6 linked regions of the Homo sapiens genome follow. The protein of the gene in region 6 purifies or fractionates together with the protein of the main gene of each other region. This does not show direct contact. Each region holds a gene or a part of one and is shown on either strand. Other genes may lie near its edges.

Region 1 (3,500 bases), on a different chromosome or scaffold from region 6:
TTGCTATACCAGTTGAGACAAGGTTGTACTATATCAGGATCATCAATGCCACTAAGTTCAACATACCAGATGCTAAAGTTAAAGCTGGGTCCCCAGGACAAGAGTGGAACTTTAAGGAGAAAAAACAAAAAGAAGAAGAAAAATATTAACACAGTTCAAATAAAACTTTAGCAAAGTAAAAGCACTATTCAACCTTATAAGGATTCATTCAACGAATTTTCTGGGCATCTTTTATATGACTAGCATGGTGCTAAGGCTACAACAGTAAAACGAAACAGATGACCCATGCCACCATAAGATTTCCTTAGTTAATAAAAACACTGTAAGATAAATTAAAAATGTGCACATGTCTACCCCCAAATAAATGCCACCAGAATTAGATGATTTAACAGGTAAATTTTATCAAATGTACAAGCAGCAAAAAATTACTTTAGAATTTAGTCTACATCAGAACACTGAAAGAGACTGAAATTATTTATCAGTGGCACAACCCTGAAATCCAAATCAGAAGAAAAAAGACTTAAGGCCAATCACAGCTATGAATACATATTTAAATACAAATTAAAAGGAGAAAAGTTGCAAAAAATTCTATCAGATTTTCATTGTAACCAAACAGATCTCATTCCAGGAATGGAAAGATGATGGTTCAATAAATAATAGGAGCTATATTAATATAATCTACCACGTTAACAAAATAAAAGAAAAAACACATTTGATGACTTAAATACATTATTATTTTTAAACCCTCAATATATAAGCAATATAAGGCAATAAAAAATTTCCTTAGATTTTTTTAAAAAGCATCAAAAACCTTAAAAATTAAACCTACTGGGAAAATACTAAATATTCCCACTCAAGTCAGAACAAGACAAAGATGTCCAATATCTCTACTATTTGTCACTAATTAGAGGTCTCAACCAGTGCAATAAGGAAACAAACAAACAAATTAAGAAAAACGAATTGTAATTTAAAGATGACCTGTCTACCTAAAAAAATTCAAGAGAGCCAGGAGCAGTAGCTCAAGCCTGTAATCCCAGCACTTTGGGAGGCCGTGGCAAGAGGATCACTTGAGGCCAGGAATTCAAAACCAGCCTGGCAAACACAGTGAAACTCTGTCTCCACTAAAAATAGAAAAAATAGCCAGTCATGGTGGCGTGCGCCTATAATCCCAGCTACTTGGGAGGCTGTGGCAAGAGAATCACTTGAACCCAGGAGGTGGAGGTTGCAGTGAGCTGCCATGACACCACTGTACTCCAGCCTGGGCGACAGAATAAGACTGTGTCTCAGTGGAAAAAAATATATATATATATTCAATTGAAAAACTTTTTATTTGTAAACAAGGTAAACACACAAAAATCAACTTTTCCTATACCTACAATAACCAATTAGAAAATATACCTCAAAAAAGTCCTATTTATAATGGCAAAAAGCTGAAAATACTTCAGAATAAACTTAAAATACGCAATATTTATAAGAAAATATAAAATTTTAGTGAATAATTGAATAAATGAAAGAACATACTATGTTCCTATATAGGAAAACTCAATATTGTAAATGTGTAGCTCTCTCCAATTAATTATAAATTTAACATCATGTCAATCAAAATCCCAATGGTCTTTCCAGAGGTCCCACGTAGTCAAAACTACTTTTTTTTTTAATAACAACACTAGTTATTTTTCAAAACAACTATTTTTCAAAATAACATAATAAACACTTTTCTAGCCTTTTAATAATAGCAACATTGCACTAATGGTACAAAAGCAATGGTGTGTAAAACTGCTAGCACCTTGGTACCAAACTAATGGCACCAAAAAGTACTATTAGTGCTCAGTAAGTACAAGGTGCACTGTATGCCTCACCACCATACACTGGCAGTAAAATAAAATAAAATAAAATAAAATAAAATAAAATAAAATAAAATAAAAATAATTTTTACCAATGGCACAGAAAAATTAATTTTATTAAATTCCCATCAAGTACACATCTGTCTAGTATCCTGTGTGACAAAATGAGATTTGCATATAAAGCATTTTTGTTGTGTACCAAACCACAATGGTTATCTCAAGGAAAGGACCTGTACAATTATTTAAGTTGTGAGTTTAAAAATCAATTTATTTTTCATGGAATGCCATTTTATTCTTGAAAGAAAAACAGACAACCTATGATTATTCAGATTTGGGTATTTGCCAAACATTTACATGTTATTTCAAGGAAAATACTTAACGATATTTGCTGTCAAGGATAAAAACCAAGCTTTCAAGAGAAAAATTAGAATTTTGGAAGATAAGTACCCACCACTGTGAGCTTAACTGATTCCCAACACTTAGATTTTTTTAAATGAGATTAGATGTGATATTAATAAATGTGATTTTTAAAATATTACATAATGAAGTGTTTCAACATTTGGGAGATCTGTGTAATTCAGTGAACCATATTTTCTAAATAACCAATGAATGTTACAAAATCACACCTGGGTAAAAAGTCCAAGACAGACCACTGGGTAAAAAGTCCAAGATAGACCAGTGAATTTTAATGTAACAACAGATTCACTGATGCAGTTTCAGAATCAATAATGCAACTATCTTTAAGAAACTAACATTTGTAGAGTTTTGATGAAGCATCAAAATAGAATATCCAGAATAGCTGATACCAGGCGTAATGATTTCCAATATCCGACTGAATAAGGAAAATGTATGGGGTATGATACTTTTATATATTTTTGTCATCTAAAACAGGGGTCCCAAACCCCCAGGCCCAAACCTGTACAGGTCCCTGGCCTGTTAGGAACCCAGACGCATGGCAGGAGGTGCGCAGTGTGTTAAGGGAGCATTACTGCCTGGGCTCTGCCTCCTGTCAGATCAGCGTTGGCATTAGATTCTCAAAGGACTGCAAACTCTATCATGAACTGCAAATACAAGGGATCTAAGTTGTGCACTCCTTATGAGAATCTAATGCTTGATGATCTGAGATGGAAAAGTTTCATCCCAAAACCATCTCTCCACCATACCCTGCCCCAACTTCTGGGTCCACAGAAAAACTGTCTTCCACAAAACTGGTCGCTGGTGTCAAAAAGGTTGGGGACCACTGATATAAAGGAAGCTGTGTGAATAAAAACACAGGCAGTAGCAACCAGCCATAAGGATGTATGAAGGAATGCTGGGATATTTAATATGCCTTTCTGTTTATGTATGTAAACAACACACATTTCAAAAAGTTTTTTTTTAACAACAAATATTAAATTATCTTTATTGTTTTAGTGTTTCTTTATGTAGCAGTGTCATTTAAAAGTTTATCTACTAAATCACATAGCAATAACCATCTAGTAGTATAAGAGTCAGAATAAAATAATGATTCTAAACTAAAAGCACCAAGAATATAGTCTATATATGTCACCAGACATAAAATATTAGAGATTTCCAGGTCCAAGTCTCATTAAGAATTCATTTATTGGTCCTGGTGCAGTGGCTCATGTCTGTAATCCCAACACTTTGGGAGGCAGA
Region 2 (4,092 bases), on a different chromosome or scaffold from region 6:
CTGAATAGGTGGGGCAGGCAGCTATCTGGCCAGCATCTCTGCCCATAGTCCCGGATAAAAGATGCCATTCCTGCAGCTTGGCCTGCCGGTCCCACCATTAGATATAACCTTTTGATTGAGCCATCAGCAGGAGGTACACACATTTGTCTCCTGGCTGGTAGGGAGGCCACATACTTGCAGAAATTGAGGCTAATTTTAGAAGTGCTAGCCAGCCCCTGGCAGTGCACAGGGACTTAAGGGGCAGGTCTTAAGGCATAGAAGGTGTGATAGAGAGTTTGCCAATATGGCATCTGACTGGGATATAAGGCATGGCTTGGATGAAAAACTGCAATTTCCTCTACTTTCAATTTCAGCCCTGGCTTCTGTTTCCCCTGCTGGTTCTCCCTACTCCACCTCCACCCACCACCTCCTTGGTTTCTCAATTTCTCTCCAAGGGCAATCCCAACAACCATGGGTTACAGGCACACTACTGTGGAACAAACCACAAGAATGCACATTAGTGACTGAGGGGTTCCCTCTTGAACCCAGAAGTTTATTAGCATTCAGCAAAGAAGTATATGTTGTTACAAACAGGCAGTGCATCAAGATATCCAGATGTCAGTGAGAGCTAGAAGTGGAGAGGTCAGAACCCGGGTGATTCTGTGATGTCTCAGGGATGGAGAAGAGGAAGCTCAGGTACAGCCAGGGGCCACACTCCCCTTTCTGCACTGGGAGAGAAATAACTCTTACACCTGGGGTGATGATGTACTGCAGTTCCTAATTTCTTCCCTCCTTCCTCCAGCCATTTTATTTAACATGACCTAAATATACATTCCTGTTTTATTCCCCCCCACCCCCACCCCCATATACAGCAGGAAAAATAAGCACCAATAATAATAACAATAATTAAAGTCCCACCTCTCAATAGACCCAACCCTCACACATATACATACCATGTGGATTTTCTTCTTTGGAGTGACTATAGGATTGGAAAGTCAGGGATCAGGCCAGCAAGCCATCACCCTGAAAGTCACTGTTCCCCAAAGTACCATCCACGTGTGAGCTGGAGCAGGGCAGGGGAGGGGGAATGGTGGTAGGGGAGGAGATTCCCCCAAAGCAGCAAGAGGGGTGAAGGAGTTCCCCAAAGCCTCTCTTCTGGGAAAATGTCACAATCAACTGAGCTCCTAGGAAGTCCTATGCAAGGGTTTCCTCAACGAGATGGTAAATTCCTGATAGTGCAAGCATCATTGTCATCTGTCTCCCACAGCTTCTTGGGGAAAGGGGACATGGTTGAAACCCCCTTCCTTCCCCATTGGGTGGAGAATGTTCCCAAAATGCTCCTTTGGAGAAACTCAACAAGACAAATAGCACAACATGGGCACTCTGATTTCAAAACTAAAGCACAAAACATAACGAGGAAAAAAAATAAGACACATGAGTACTCTCAGAGGGTCTAGACATGGGGAAGAAGGGTTCAAAAGAAAGAAAAACATAAAATAAAGCCAGAAAATGACAAGCTGTCTACCAGGTCCCACACGCCTGAGTCACTTGGCGTTTGTCTTCAGTACCTGGGCATCTTCTGCTGTCCCTATCATGGGGGGAGGGAACGGACAGTGTGGTACAGCTAAGGTAGGGAGAGGGGAAAGAGGGAGGGCCCTAGGCAGTTGAGATGCCAGCCCTCTGCACAAGCAGCAGCAATTTTTGTGTCATCTTTGTTTTGTTTAAAACTGTAAACAGCACCGCTTAAAAATAAATCAGAAAAGAACAATTGATAAACATTGTTTTCCATGAATATAAAATGCAAACAATATAAAAATAGATAATTGACTTTTGATATATATATATATATATATTAAAAACAACTTGAATGCAACATACACATGGGTAAACTTGAAGTCTCCCTGCTAAACCCCATGCCTCCCTCTAGCAACTGGGCCTGGGGGCTGAGGGCAGGTGGGGTGGTGGCACTGGCACAGGTAAGGAAAGCTGCTGGCAGCAGGATGAAGGGTACACACCCAGCCTCCTGAGTGTGTGAAGCTACTTCCCTTCTTGGCATAGGACTAAGGAGGGAGAGAGACTGGTGTTTACTGAACCCATTATCCGGGCAGTCTTGTGGCCTGGTACCCAAGCTGAGGCCAGATAGGTAGGGCTGGCTTGAACTGGGCCCCAAGGCAGTGCTTCCTTGGAGACTCTAAAGCACCAAGAAACTGGCATCCTGGCCCTGGGAGAGGCCTACTAGGTGGCCTTCTCTATCCACATTCACTGGTCCTCCAAGGACCAGTCTCATCTGGGAATTCTCAGGATCACAGCTGTCTGGCACTAGGCCTATTGGGTAATAAGATGAAGGCAGCTACTTCCACTAAGTCCCATTTTCCCTTAAAATCACATCCAAAAGCATTATTCCAGGACCTTGCAATGGAGACATGTTGTTCATCTAGTAGTACTCTTGGAGGTGTGGACATGATATCAACAGTTTTAGTGGTCTGGGGTGTATTTGCTGCCACCCAAGCCAGCACTAGTCTGTGTTTGGAAACAGGCCTGAAGCTTGGCTGGCTCTCCCAATGTCACCCTGTGCTGTCAACACCATGGGTCCCCAGACAGGTCTTCCTTCCTCCCCTAGGCTGCCATTGGGTTTCAGCCACAAACTGCTTAGCTCTAGAAATTCAAAGGAACCTGCTTCTGCAGCCACATATCCTGGCTGCCCCACTTCAGGTGGTAAGGATCCTATTCCTGGGCTGGCTAGGGCAGTGAAGGGACTTGCAGGCAGCAAGGCTGTCCAAACCATGAACTCTCACTCAGCCCCAGGCCCTACTCTGTGGTGTGTGACCTTCCAAAGCCCAACAAAGTGTGTCAGGGCTATGCCAGTGCCCCTCAGAGACAATGCCTCATGCTGCCTTCCTGATCCTGAGGGCAGCTCTCAGCCCTTAGCCAAAGGTTGGCCACCTCCTTTTTCTCTTCCCAGATAGGCTGGTGGCCCTTCTCCAGCAGGGTCTGGAGGCTGGTGATGGCTCTACCGCCTGCTGTGGCTGGCACAGTCCACATGTAGACAGGAGCTCAAGCTGCCCTGAAAGAAGAGGCAAGAGGTGGGTTCTTCCCTGTTGTAAAGGCATTTGGTGAGTGTTTACTTCCTGCCAAATAGCCAGGCCAATTTCAGCCCCACCATCCCAGAGCAGCTTTGGTAAGAGGCCAGAAAGTTGGAATTTGGGCACTTCTCTCTTGGAATGCTGTGCTTGGGGTAAGGAGGGCCTTCCTCACCCTCTTTCATTCTCCAGCTCCACAACAGATACATTTCTTCACAATGTATCTGTAGCCAAAGTCAGCCTGAAGAGCTGGTCTGGGTCCCTTGAGTGGTGGTGTTAGTGCCATGCAAATTCATGTGGTGCTTCCAGGGGTGCAGCTTCTACCAGCCAGGTCTGCTATTTGTGAGTAAGGGCACTGGGCCAACCCCAATCTGAGAAATGGTGACAAAGACCAGCATGGACACATCCCCTGGCCAAGAAACAGTTTGCCCACAAAGTCACCTTGACTTAGGGGGCAAACAGCATCTGTTCCCAAGCTAAATTGCCATATCTCAGGAATGGCAAGAACCCTGTTGACTTCTTCTCTCAACAGGCATGGAGATGGTGGGATGTGAGGGCGAGGGTGCAATAATCATAATTTGAGTGAACACAGCCAAGCAAAAAATGTTCCATATGCCATTTCCAATAAAGACATGTAAAAGGAACCCTCTCCTACAGGTGATTAATGAGAGGTTGAGCTTGGCAAGATTAGCCTGTTCCAATGTCTTCCTGACAGCAAGCTCTTCCCCACCAGTATTTCCAACCTAGTTTAACATGAAAACTGCATGGATGCAGGAGAAGGGAGGGTGCCATTCATTCCATAAAGGGCTGCAACTGCCAAGAAGCCCTGTCATTTGATGATGCTAAGGACTCGGCTAATTGGAAGATAAAAGCTCTTTAAAGGGCCCAGAACAGCAGCTGAGATGCCTTTGGTATCCTGTCTTGGGAGTGCAAACCTGGGGCCTTATTACAGAGTCCAAATGATGGGATGGGCAAGGCTTAAGGAACATTTTGTGTTGGGAGGCTTGAGAAGGGAGTTTTCCCTTTTAAGAAA
Region 3 (3,500 bases), on a different chromosome or scaffold from region 6:
AAAATTAGCAAGGTGTTGGGGGCGGTCCCAGCTACTTGGGAGGCAGAGGAGGGAGGATCGCTGGAGTCTGGGGGGGTCAAGGCTGCAGTGAGCCGTGATTGTGACACTGCACTCCAGCCTGGGTGACAGAGCAAGATCCTGTCTCGAAAAACAAAGAAAAAAACGACTATTGGGGTCACACTGGCCATGCGCTCCACGTGGCATAGAGCTGCAGCGGAAACTGAGAGCAGTGCTTCTAGTTTTCAAGAAAATCAGGGGGTCTCATGAAAACACAGATTGAGGCCCAATCCCAGAGTTTCTGATTCTGCAGGTCTGGATGGGGCCTGAGAATCTGCATCGCTAACAGTTCCCAAGGGAGGTGAACTGCTTTAAGAACTGTGCTTCAGGCTGGGCACGGTGGCTCATGCCTGTAATTCCAGCACTTTGGGAAGCCGAGGCAGGTGTATCACCTGAGGTCAGGAGTTCAAGACCAGCCTGACCAACATGGTGAAACCCCATCTCTACTAAAAATACAAAAAATTAGCTGGGCATGGTGGCAGGCACCTGTAATCCCAGCTACTCAGGAGGCTGAGGCAGGCAAATTGCTTTAACCAGGGAGGCGGAGGTTGCAGCAAGCTGAGATTGCACCATTGCACTCCAGCCTGAGCGACAGAGCAAGACTCCATCTCAAAAAATAAAATAAAATAAAAAACAACAACAAAAACCGTGCTTTAGAGGAGTCCAGGACTCTGGTGTGGACCCTCTCCTCTCATACCCCAGTGTTCCTGGCTGTGACTCTTTGTGTGGCCAGAGGCTCTGGCGGCAAGCACCTTATGGGTCCATCCTCCTGCCCCTTAAACACCCCGTGGTGTGAGGATGGAGAACAGAAAGACCCCTGTATCCACTTCACTTCCTTTCCAGAATTCTTGCCAACGCAGCCCCCAACAAGGAAGATGTTAACCAGTAGAGCACCTCCTACGACACTGCCGAATGGAAAAAGTACGTAAGCATAATGTGGGCACCACCTGGGTTTTGGGAGAGGAGTCTCTCACACCCTACCCTAGGCAGTGGGAAGACAGGGATTACAAATTGAAGATGTAAAGTTAGAGAAAATGGCTGGGCATGGTGGCTCACACCTGTAATCCCAGCACTTTGGGAGGCCGAGGCCAGCGGATCACTTGAGGTTGGGAGCTCCAGACCAGACTGGCCAACATGGTGAAACCCTGTCTCTACAAAAAATACAAAAATTAGCCAGGCGTGGTGGCATATTCCTGTAGTCCCAGCTACTTGGGAGGCTGAGGCAGGGGGATCACTTGAACCCGGGAGGCAGAGGTTGCAGTAAGATCATGCCACTGTACTCTAGCCTGGGGGACACAGTGAGACCCTGTCTCAAAAAAAAAAAAAAAAAATAGAAAATGAATGGGCGGTGAGACTGGAGCTTAATCTCACAGGAAGGTCAGATGAGCCCAAGAATGATGATCATGACTAGAAGAAGAAAATGAAAAGTGCTCTAAAAGAGGGACAGTGAAAGAGGCAAAGAAGTCCAGAGGTGGAAGAGGGTCCCGTTCCTCAGGAGATCAGGGAAGGCTTCCTGGAGGAAGAGGTGTGGGGCTGTATCTTGAGGATGTCATTTGCAGTAGATGAGAAGGCAGCACGTCCCAGGCTGCCAGGAGACAGGGAGCAGGGTAGGGGGGTTGGTTTTAGGCAGAAATGATACTATGATCCCACAAGCTACCCCCAGTCTGGACCAAGGAGGCGGTACCCTGGGCAGCGGGGTGAGCAGATGCCCAAGGGTTGTAGATCCTGGGACACCGGGCTGCCCTTGCGGTGCGGACGGGGGCAGAGGCCAGTGGGAGATGCGCCCTGACCCCCGCCCCCATCCCCAGGTGAGGGCAGCGTACGCCTGGTAGGGGGCGCGAACCTGTGTCAGGGCCGAGTGGAGATCCTGCACAGTGGCCTGTGGGGCACCGTGTGTGACGACGACTGGGGGCTGCCGGATGCCGCTGTGGTCTGTCGTCAGCTGGGCTGCGGGGCGGCCATGGCCGCCACCACCAACGCCTTCTTCGGCTATGGCACCGGACACATCCTGCTGGACAACGTGCACTGCGAAGGCGGCGAGCCCCGCCTGGCAGCCTGCCAGAGCCTGGGCTGGGGTGTGCACAACTGCGGCCACCACGAGGACGCGGGCGCGCTCTGCGCAGGTGCGGGCTCTAGGGGCGATGGGCGGGGCCGGGGCAGGTGGGCGGGGCCCTGTGGCAATGCTGGAGGAGGAGGCTTCGGTGGGGAGGTGGATGGGGAGGGTGTTTTGGCTGTCTTGATGCTCCCCAGAGCTCTCCAGGCAGCATCCAAAATTACTTCTATCTCAGTCCTGTTCTAGAAGTGCCTCCGAATATCCCAGAACTCCTTGTGGTACACTCCATGGCTATGAAACAATATTGCACTAATCCAGTCTGGCCAACATGGCAAAAATTAGCCGGGCGTGGTGGTGCATGCTTGTAATCCCAGAGACTCGGGAGGCTGAGGCAGGAGAATCGCTTGAACCCAGGAGGTGGAGGTTGCAGTGAGCCGAGCTGACGCCACTGCACTCCAGCCAGGGTGACAGAGACAGACTCCATCTCAAAACAAACAAACAAAAAAACTGTACTATTGCTTCACCAATACTCGAGAATTCTATAGCAATATCCCAAGAATGCCTCCAGAATGTTCCAGCAAGTACTGTTCCTGGACCACTTTAGAGTAACACTCTAGGATAACACTCGGAGTAACACTCTAGAATTGCCCCAGAGATATTCCAGCATTCTCTGATGCTCACAGCATTACCTAGCACACCCCTCTGTCATCCTGATGCTCTAATAATAGTATTTTCTCCCCACCTAGGCCCTCTCCAATTTGGGAGGGTTTCTCAGCAAAGAGGAATAATAGGGCCAATAATGCTATTTCACAGATGGACTCTGCTCTGTAAGAGATAAAGTGGTTGCCCACAACTCATAACTCATAGCAAACTAAGGGCTATCATTCCCAGTGTATAGGTGGGAAAGCTGAGGCCCAGAGAGTCAGAGCCTTGCCCATGGTCACACAGTTAATGCAAGGCAGGCAAGCCCCCAAATCGAGGCTTAGTCCAGGAGGGTTTTTGGCTTCCCTCAGCAAAGAATTTAAGGGCCAGCTGGTGTTAGCAGCTTTCATTGACGCGGCAATGCACAGCAGCAGCAGAGGTCCTGCTCCTTGCTGAGCAGGGCTACCCCATAGGCAGTGTGCCCAGAGTAGCAGCTGAGAGGCAGGTCTGCAGTCGTAATTCTATTTACTTTCAAGTATATGCAAATTAGGGGGTGGATTATGCAGATATTTTAAGAACTAGAATAGTAATTTTTGGGTTGTCTGCGTTGCCATGGAAAGGTAACTCCAGGTGTTGCCACGGCAATGGTAAACTGACATGGCATACGAGTGGGCGTATCTCATGGAGAGGCACTCCCACCCCATCCCTGTTTTAGCTAGTCCTCAATTTGGCCCGGTATCTGAGCTCC
Region 4 (3,500 bases), on a different chromosome or scaffold from region 6:
GTCTCTCTGTGTTGCCCTGGCTGGTCTCAAACTCCTGGGCTCAAACGATCTTTCCACCTTGGCCTCTCAAAGTGCTGGGATTATAGGCATAAGCCACCATGCCCGGCCCGTGTATTTTCATAGAGTTATTATGGCCACATTCTTACAGTTAGAGGAACTGCTTTTCTACGTACTATAGTAACATAAACCATAAAGGCCGTCCTTGAGTGGCTGATATTTGGAAACACAGCTTGGGGAATAACTGCCAACCATGCTGGCCTGACGGACTTGCCCAGCACTCCTGCCTCACCCTCACCCGCCGCACACCCGAGGACAGGCACAGAACCCTTGCTGTCTCATAGCTGCGTGCCCTGGTACATGCTGCTTCCTCACCTGGCCTGCTCTCCATCACCCTTACCTCCTCGACTACTTGAGAGGCTGGCCCATCACTTCTGAGTTAGCTCAGACGTCAGCGTCTTCAGCAGCTGTCTCTAGCCTGTGCCCACCTAGCTCCCTCTACTCTCACTTTGCACCCTTCTATTTCAGTTTTGGTCACTGGGCCTGCCTCCCCCACCAGACCAGAACCTCTCTTGCTGCAACACAACCTTCCCTCCTCATTATACCATTGAAAGAAAGTTGACTTTTCTTGTCCTATCTCCTCTCCCTACCACTGGGGCTTCCTTCTGTGTCCTTTCTACCCTGGGCCACTGCTCCTTTCCATTTCAGAGCAGCCTTTGACACTGAACACGTGGGCAAACCTCAGAATGTCAGTGACAGAGCTGATCTAGCCCAATGCCCATTCTCAAGAAGGGTACAGAGGAACATCAAAGAGAAAGAGAATCCTATGTCCAAGGTGACCACCAAGATCCTCCCAGTTTCACAGGCTCTCTTCACTCATTCCCTCATTCCCACCAGCATGAGTCCCGGCCTCAGCACCTTGACCCATCTGTAGCCACTGTCTCCCAACCTGACAGGCAACAAGTGACAGTGAAAAGGCACCCAGGGCCTTGGGGGCTGTGTTTCTTCCCTTTTTCCTTACAGCTAATGCTATTACGCTGGAATCTATAGTCAGAGAGTCCAGAAGCTATGCCACCCACCCCCCACCATCCCCTCTGAACAAACACCCTGCAACTGAATGTGACCCATTATGGCAAAATATAACAGGGTCTCCTATCTGAAATGACGTAATTATTATTATTGCTATTATTAACAGCTGACATTCCAAATAGGAGCCTGTTATGTGCCAGGCACCGTTCTAATGACTTTGCATACATTAATTCATTTACCTAATGCTCACGAAAACACTATGAGGTAGGTACAATGATTAGACCCACTTTGCAGATGAGAAAATGAGACACAAAGATTAAATCAGTTGCCCAAGGTCAGGCGTCTGGGAAGTGGAGGAGCTGGGAACTGAACTGAAGCCAGACAGTCTGGCTCTGGCCTCAGAGTCCTTCTCTACGTACTTCACATCACAGGTACTCCCAGGACCAGCTTCACAGGCCACTGTTTCACCAGGAAAGGAAAGAGCAAATATCTGTGTTGGAATGAGTGTACAGCAACCATTAATGATGATGAGAAACAGAAAATTAACCACAGAGCTCGTGAGAATGATCAACTGGGGAAGATGGCAGGACACTAGAATGTTGGCCAAGAGTGTCTGGGAACTAGAATCACAATTTATCAAAAATAAACATGGCTCAAAAAAGCCAGGACCTCACGAAGGTCAAACAATCCGGCCCTGTCAGACACCAAGAGCTACCAGGCTTATCAAAGCCAAGCTCAAATCAGCATCTTGAAATTGTATTTACTACACTTGATCTCAGCGAAAAGGCTGAGAAGCGATAAAATTCTATTTACAAAGCTGAGGAAGGAGATGGGTACGGGATTGCATTGTAGCAAGGAGTGGGAAACAATCTAGGGACCTCATCACTAGAGGAATCAAGTAAGTAAAATGTGGGGGATGCATCTATGGAAACCTGTGGAGCATTTAGAAACTGCATCCCAAATATACCCAGAGCAACATCGACAAGCTCCACACATGGCACTGAGGTGGAAAAAAATGAGGTCTAGGCAGAATCCATTTATGTAAATTAAAAGTATATGCATATAGGCTGGGAGCAGTGGCTCACACCTGTAATCTCAGCATTTTGGGAGGTCAAGGCAGGCAGACTGCTGAGCTCAGGAGTTTGAGACTAGCTTGGGCAACACGGCAAATTTACCTGGGCATGGTGGCACACGCCTGTGGTCCCAGCTCCTCAGAAGGCTGAGGTGGGACGGAGGACTGCTTGAGCCCGGGAGGTCAAGGCTGCAGTCAGCCATGATTATGCCACTGCATTCCAGCCTGAGCAAGAGTGAGACCCTGTCTCAAAAAAACAAAAAACAAAAAGAAGATATACACCAAACACATCAGAATGGTTTCCTGTGGTGAGAAGAGAGGGGAAGAATAGGGACAAAAGGGAATATAAATACAAAGGAGAAAAAGGCCCTGCATGGACCAGTTAAATGTATCATGAACTGAGGAGTGTGATTAACTCAGTAATTTTTTTTTTTTTTTTGTAGACGGTCTCGCTCTGTTGCCCAGGCTGGAATACAGTGGTGCTATCTTGGCTCACTGGCAACCTCCACCTCCCGGGTCCAAGCAATTCTTATGCCTTGGTCTCCCAAGTAGCTGGGATTACAGGTGCACCACCACACCTGGCTTTTTTTTTTTTTCATTTTTGTATTTTTAGTAAAGACGGGGTTTCGCCATTTTGGCCAGGCTGGTCTCGAACTCCTAGCCTCAAGTGATCCACCTGCCTTGGCCTCCCAAAGCACTGGGATTACAGGTGTGAGCCAAATCACCTGGCCAAATTTTTAAAAGTAAAATAAATGAACTGAGAAAACAGAACTGTTCGTGGGTATTCTATCCAAAAAATGCAGGAGGTTAATTCAGTCTGTCTAGAGCAAGCCACTCTGCCTGAATCAGTCAGTCATCTTCACCAGGCGCAAGGAATTGTGTTTGTCTTTGACAAACTTCATGATTAATAGATTGAAATTTCATGTCCACTGGTCCTAAGCCTTCCTCCCCAAGGTCTCACATATACAGAAATTATCCACCAGGATGACCCTCCGAAACACATAGCAGATCCTGTTACCTTTTGCCCAACACTACCATGGTTGACATATAAACCCTTTGCAATAATGTATTTGCTTCCTTTGCACAAGTTGTTCCCATTTTTAGAGTGCCCTCTGCACTTCTTTGTATAGAGTACGTAAGCTGTAGTTAAATTATCACCTCCCCTTGAGCCCTCAGTGAAATCTCCCTGCCTCCTTTTCTGCTTCATAACCTGGCAAGAGTGGCCACACCACACCCATCGAGTCCTCAGCTACTGCAGCACAGTAACAGCCTGTCCACGTCAGCCTCCTCCATTGGTCTGTGAGCTGCTCGATGGCTGGAATGTAGTCTTGTCCTTTCTCCCCCTCAGTGCCCAGACTAGGGCCTGGTCCATGGTAGATGCTCAGTAAACATTTGTTGATTG
Region 5 (3,500 bases), on a different chromosome or scaffold from region 6:
CCCTAGAGGTTCAGTGTTCTGCATTGCGAGACTAGCCCTAGGTTTAGAAACCTAGTGACATAGGCTTGCTGTACAGAACAGTATGCAGTGTGTCAGCTGACACTGGTGTTGGTTTCACGATCCGAAGGAAATGGAATATAATTGCCGTCCTTGTCACACCTTGAGCATTATGGTAAGCAGGTGCTTTCTGGTGCAACTGTTTGTGGTTGAACAGTGTTTATGACTAATATCTGCCATCGTTTTTAAGAGTGTTTTTAAAGGAAAGGGCAACTCTTGTCTGGCCTATTTTTCTATCTTCCTATTAAAACCTGTGGTATGACGTGGACAGAATGTAACTCTAGATGTTTACAATTAACTGTTTTCATTGTAATCTGTTTCTTGCTACTCAAACTGTGTAACCGTGGGATTTCTTATGTAGGATATCTATAATATTTGTGCTGAGTCATTTTGAGTTAAGTGAATGGGGTAAAGTTCTATTTTTAGCCCGTCAAGGCCTAGTGAGGGCACTGGCTTAGCAGAACTCTCCATCACGCGCATCTGTTTGGGTTATGCCCACCAATAAGGACTTGATTCCAGTTTAAATAGGACTTTGGTCACTGAATAAATCTAAAGTTTCTGAGAAATACATTGACTTTTTTTGTCCACTGTAAAAAAATTTTTTTTTCTTCCTGTGAGAAATTGAGACTCTTAAAAGTTAAAGTCTACTAATGAAAGATTATTTGCTTGTGCCTGTTTTCTACATTCATTTTTCTTTAAAGGTTGACTCTTATTTTTACCCTCCCAAATCCAGACTCTTCTATGTACTCTCCTTAAATTTTAAACTCCCAAGCTTTGTATAGAAGTCGATAATCTGGTCCAGATGCTGAAAAGAAGACAAAGCTTTCACATTTGCAATATTGGCTTCATTTTCTGGACTTCTGTTGTTTTAATCATGAGTGTTCATGTTTCTTTAAAACAGAAAAAAAAAAAATCACCTTGTTTTCTTCAGGGTGTGAGCTCCTAGAGAACTAAGATGAGGTTTTGTGATTTTCCTTTGTTTTAAGTCTGGTATAAGATCTCGCTCACATAAATATTTAATACTCTTTTTGATGGTGACTGACTTTTGGTCGTATGATGGACATTTAGGCCCTTAAATCTGCCCCATGAGCAAGATGACACACCTTTGGAAAAACAGAAGCTATTCTGGGAGGTACATGAATATGTTCACATTTTATCACTAAGTTTCATTTAATATGCCTTATTAGTAATAAGCATGTATACCAATTTGTATCTACAAACCTATAATTTTTAAACTGTAGTATTCACGTAAATATTGGTAAGATATTTATTTTGGAATGTGGATGATTTGTAAAACCTGTGTATTAAAACAAAAGTATACAAATACCTGATTTGTACATACCTGGCTGTAACCTAATGTGTCTTTTTGTTGTCATGCAGAGCTCTGGTATCGAGACTTTAGTGGAGGAGCTCTGCTCCAGACTGAAAGACCTTCAGAGTAAGCAAGGTGAGGTCAAAAGCACTGTGCGCACACATGCCAGGATTACATCCCTGAGGAATCTGGATTGGGGAAAATCTTAGAATTGATCAGAAAAGAAAACAACCAGAACAAAGTCTTTGTGTCCAGTGTGTGTCACTAGGCCAGCCTCATGCTCCATCTGCAGCTCTGTTAGTGGCTTCTGTGTCAGACCCAGCAGTCACTCATAGAGATTCCTGCAACCAAGGGAGGGACTTAGTCCACAGGTGCCCTCAGAGATAGGAAACACTTCATGGTTTTCTGTTTTTTGGGTTTTTTTAATTGTTGTTGGCTTCAAGTTGAAGCTCAGAGATCAGGAACAATATTGTCTCTTTCCTTTCCCCATCCTTGCCCCTCTGTTAATATCTGCCTGTTGATGTTAAGACTGCTAAATTACGACATTAAATTAAGATGTTAAGACATGAATTACTTCAGGTTTGGAAGGGACTTCTGTTTTGACTCAGCTTTTTTGAAAACACAGACTTGGCAAGCTTATTTAGTTATTTCGATATATGAATCCTCCTCATACTTTTTCTAACTTGTTTGCAATCCCTAAGAACGAGACCTTCATATTAAGGGTGAGGATCCTTGTTTCCTTGCCCTCTTTATGGTCATTTTGCTGCCCACCAAGCCTTGAGCCTGCCTCTTAAGGGCACAGTTGATTTGTAACCTAAGGCAGTATCCTAGGCTAAACTAAGGGATAGCCCTTTTTCCTGTTTCAGTTGAAATAGCCCTTGCTCACCTACATGTTAAGTAATAGAGCAAATTGTAATAAAGAATATTCTTTACAGATTAGTTTTGGTCAAGATGAGTCAATGTAAAGTCTATGAGTGTAGAATTTTGTGAGAAAATAGTTTTGGAATCTAAACAGATGTTCTGTCCTTCTGGTCTAATTAATAAGTACACAGGGGACTTCAGTCTCTTAATTAAGTGCCTCTAGAGCACTGTATCAGTGACGAGATGAACAACTCTCACCTCTTGGCCTAATGCTAATGTGGTTTAATCGGAGAATTCCCTCTGGCACACTGAAAAAATAGATTTTTATTAAAAAGATCGGTATTGAGTTTGCCTTTTAAGCACCAAAGTCTCTATTTCTTGTTAAAATTAGTTGAGAAACTTTGAAATACATTAGCATTTATTAACTAGATATAAGACAAATCTTTCTTAATTTTTGTTTCATAACAGAAGAGAAGATTCACAAAAAGTTAGAGGGGTCTCCCTCTCCAGAGGCAGAATTATCCCCTCCAGCAAAGGATCAAGTGGAAATGTATGTAAGATTGTATTCGGTAATAAAGTGTGCATTTGTTAAAATCAGATGAATAACTGCTACATGGTTTCCGTTTTCTGTTTGTCATCTTGTTTAGTTTCATTATATATAATGTAAGAAACATTTATCGAGCGCTTATATGCTTGACACTGAGAATTCAAAGGTGAAACAAGATGGTTCTGTCCTTGGTGTTCATATTCAATATTTGTGGAACAAATGAGTGAAACATAGAAGGTTATTATTTGCTAAGTCTATGTATGTACTATTACCTTTAATATTCACAACAGCCCTTTGAGACAGCTGTGAGAAATTAGGATTATCAGCCGGGCACAGTGGCTCATGTCAGTAATCCCAGCACTTTGGGAAGCCAAGGCAGGTGGATCACCTGAGGTCAGGAGTTTGAGACCAGCCTGGTCAACATGGTGAAACCCAGTCTCAAATATTAGTTGAGCATGGTGGTACATGCCTGTAATCCCAGCTACTCAGGAGACCGAGGCAGGAGAATTTCTGGAACCCGGGAGGCAGAGGTTGCAGTGAGCTGAGACTGTGCCATTGCACTCCAGCCTGGACGACAGAGCGAGACTCTGTCTTATTAAAAAAAAAAAAAAAAAAAAAAACAAGAAAGAAAAGAAATGATTATCCATGTTCACAAGCAAGAACACTGAGTTCCCACTGTTTACTGCAGAGGGAACATAGGCAATCCTTGACCTGCCAAACCTG
Region 6 (2,179 bases):
ATATCTGTCTCCCTGTCAACCTGGGACCTTGCTGTAAGTCTTGATAGGACAGGGAGAAGAGGGAGGCCCTACCGAGGCTCGAGGCTTCAGTGAAGGGTGACAGCAGTGGGAGTGTGGTACAGCCTCTGGAAGGACACAGTGTTCTCCCCGCCCCTTGTCTGGGAGCCAGGACTGTACCCTCCGAAGCCAGACATCACTGCCAACATATCCCCCTTGCTGGTGCCCTGGCATCTCAGCACATGACACACACCCACACCTGCAGGCTGTGGTTCCGGCTTGGCCTGCTCCCCGTCCGGCTGCTGCCGCTGCCTCTCTCCAGACCTCGCTTAAGGACAGTCCCAAACTCAGCTGGGGCAGGTGTTGGCCTGAAAGTCCTCCCCCAGCCTCTGCTGGCCAGCTTGGTGCTCACAGCTGCTGGGTAAGCTCTTGCCTAAGGAGCTGTGGGAAGCAGGGCTGATGCCCCAGCAACCTCTCCTCCCACTGTCTTTGAAGAAAGTAGCTTTAGACCGGCTAAAAGCTTTAATCCAGAGCCTGCCCTACTCTGATAGTACCAGAGTGGAGGGCAGAATACCAAATGTCCAGGAACCAAAGGCAGGGCTGTGGGGACCTGAAGAGCAGCACAGTGGGGCCCGTGCTGCTGTGGGGGAAACTGAGGCTGGGAGCCTCAGCAGAGACCGGTGTCAAGAGTCTCTGGGAACTGCATAGGCCTGAGGAACATGCATTTTCAAGTTGTCCATTGATGGTTTCGTACCTGAATTTCTCACCTTTTGTGAACATCTTGGGAGGGTGGGGGTTTTGCAGGGGTGTTAAAAGCAAGGCTTGGAGCCCCTTTCCTCCAGCTGGTGGCTCCTTCTCAGGGCCTGGCCTCATTCAGGCCACTTTGTAGAGAAATGCCCTGACCTCGCAGGAAGGATTTCCCCACCCCCAAGTGGAAGGAAGAGGACAGTGTGGGCACCAGAGGGCCCTGGAAACATCTTAGGGGAAGGAAAGGAAAAGGATAAATTTGGAGTGGGGGGTCTCTAAACAGATTGCCTGGATTCCGTTCTTTCCTGGGGTTCTACAGCTGCCTAAGCCCTCACCTTGGGGGAGGATCAAAGGGAATAAAGAGAACTCTTGGCTGAGTCTTTGTGCTTCTGTTCTGTCCTGAAGGACACGTGAGGAGCCAGAAACATCTGGCAGCCTCTGGTCCTTAGTTCAGATACAACATCCATGAAGCTGCCAGGTGTGAGGAGAGTTCCAGTGGGCATCACCTTCCTGCACAAACCTAGTCCTGATGGCTGCGAAGAGAAGCCGAGGGGACAAGGAACAGAAGCCACCAAGGGCTGTGGACTGTTGCTTGTGGGCACAGGGCAATGCGGACAGGCCACTGGCTGTGGGCCTGTAGGTCTCTGCACAGTTGCTGAGGCTGGTGCTGACTGCCTGCAGGGTCCTCTCAAGGCCTTACATACGGACACTGATCAAGGCCAGTTTGCCACAGCAGCTGCCCCTGCCAGCCATGCTCAGGCCCTGCAGCTGGCTGTCCAGACACTGATTTGCTGACAGTGGAATGTGAACTCTCTCAAGTCTACCCTGGCCTTCAAGCATGACATCCTTGCCTTGACCGCTGTCCGGAACTGTCCAGTTTCTGCAGCACTGTGCATGGGTTTTGGTGGCTGGGACAGCCACGTGGAGGATTCCCTCAGTGGCCTCCTTAGTGCCATTTGGGCTAGCCAGGGAAGGCTGGAAGGCGCTGCTGGATAAGGCTGGGCTCTGGGGTGATGTTCCCCGAGTTGGTGGGATCTAGGGGTTGGGTCCTGGCCAGCCTGTCTAGTTGGCTTGCCCTGGCCGCACCTGCTCAGCCAGCTGGGCCTGGCAGTCCAGTAGGTCATCCCGGAGGCGGGCAATGTCCTGCGTGTGCTGGGCCAGCGTACGATTCAGCTGGTCCACATGGCTCCACAGGCCCTCTCTGGGCCTCAGTGGCTCAGTGGGCAAGCTGTCCAGGCCCGCGGCCAGCAGGCCCAGCCTCCTGCACGCACCCTCCACTTGTGCCACCCGCTGGTCAAAGTGTCCCACTGTGTGCTGAAGTTTCTGGGCTGTGTCCTGGCAGCGGCTCAGCCCACTGGCCACCTTGGCCACACCAGCCTTGAGTTGCTCCAGCTCCCCACGCAGGTTCAGGACCTGCCTGTGGCCAGCCTGAAGC

Evidence for each region.
Region 1: the proteins of EMILIN3 (region 6) and MKLN1 purify together in Homo sapiens (co-immunoprecipitation; 2 studies listed by BioGRID and IntAct, with this or other methods). This does not show direct contact.
Region 2: the proteins of EMILIN3 (region 6) and AMER1 purify together in Homo sapiens (co-immunoprecipitation; one large-scale study listed by IntAct). This does not show direct contact.
Region 3: the proteins of EMILIN3 (region 6) and SSC4D purify together in Homo sapiens (co-immunoprecipitation; one large-scale study listed by IntAct). This does not show direct contact.
Region 4: the proteins of EMILIN3 (region 6) and RMND5B purify together in Homo sapiens (affinity purification with mass spectrometry; one large-scale study listed by BioGRID and IntAct). This does not show direct contact.
Region 5: the proteins of EMILIN3 (region 6) and KIAA0232 purify together in Homo sapiens (co-immunoprecipitation; one large-scale study listed by IntAct). This does not show direct contact.

Annotation. Positions count from the first base shown.
Region 1 is NC_000007.14:131,393,876-131,397,375, reverse strand, and holds part of MKLN1 (muskelin), read right to left. Parts: intron 110-3,500; coding exon 1-109. UniProt on the Homo sapiens protein: Component of the CTLH E3 ubiquitin-protein ligase complex that selectively accepts ubiquitin from UBE2H and mediates ubiquitination and subsequent proteasomal degradation of the transcription factor HBP1.
Region 2 is NC_000023.11:64,184,617-64,188,708, forward strand, and holds the end of AMER1 (APC membrane recruitment protein 1), read right to left. Parts: 3' UTR 501-4,092; downstream 1-500. UniProt on the Homo sapiens protein: Regulator of the canonical Wnt signaling pathway.
Region 3 is NC_000007.14:76,396,198-76,399,697, reverse strand, and holds part of SSC4D (scavenger receptor cysteine-rich domain-containing group B protein precursor), read left to right. Parts: intron 1-900; coding exon 901-978; intron 979-1,865; coding exon 1,866-2,180; intron 2,181-3,500.
Region 4 is NC_000005.10:178,134,014-178,137,513, reverse strand, and holds part of RMND5B (E3 ubiquitin-protein transferase RMND5B), read right to left. Parts: intron 2,345-3,500; exon of another isoform or gene 2,302-2,344; coding exon of another isoform or gene 2,202-2,301; intron 1-2,201. UniProt on the Homo sapiens protein: Core component of the CTLH E3 ubiquitin-protein ligase complex that selectively accepts ubiquitin from UBE2H and mediates ubiquitination and subsequent proteasomal degradation of the transcription factor HBP1.
Region 5 is NC_000004.12:6,855,727-6,859,226, forward strand, and holds part of KIAA0232 (uncharacterized protein KIAA0232), read left to right. Parts: intron 1-74; exon of another isoform or gene 75-130; coding exon of another isoform or gene 131-172; intron 173-1,437; coding exon 1,438-1,504; intron 1,505-2,698; coding exon 2,699-2,780; intron 2,781-3,500.
Region 6 is NC_000020.11:41,359,462-41,361,640, forward strand, and holds the end of EMILIN3 (EMILIN-3 precursor), read right to left. Parts: coding exon 1,807-2,179; 3' UTR 501-1,806; downstream 1-500.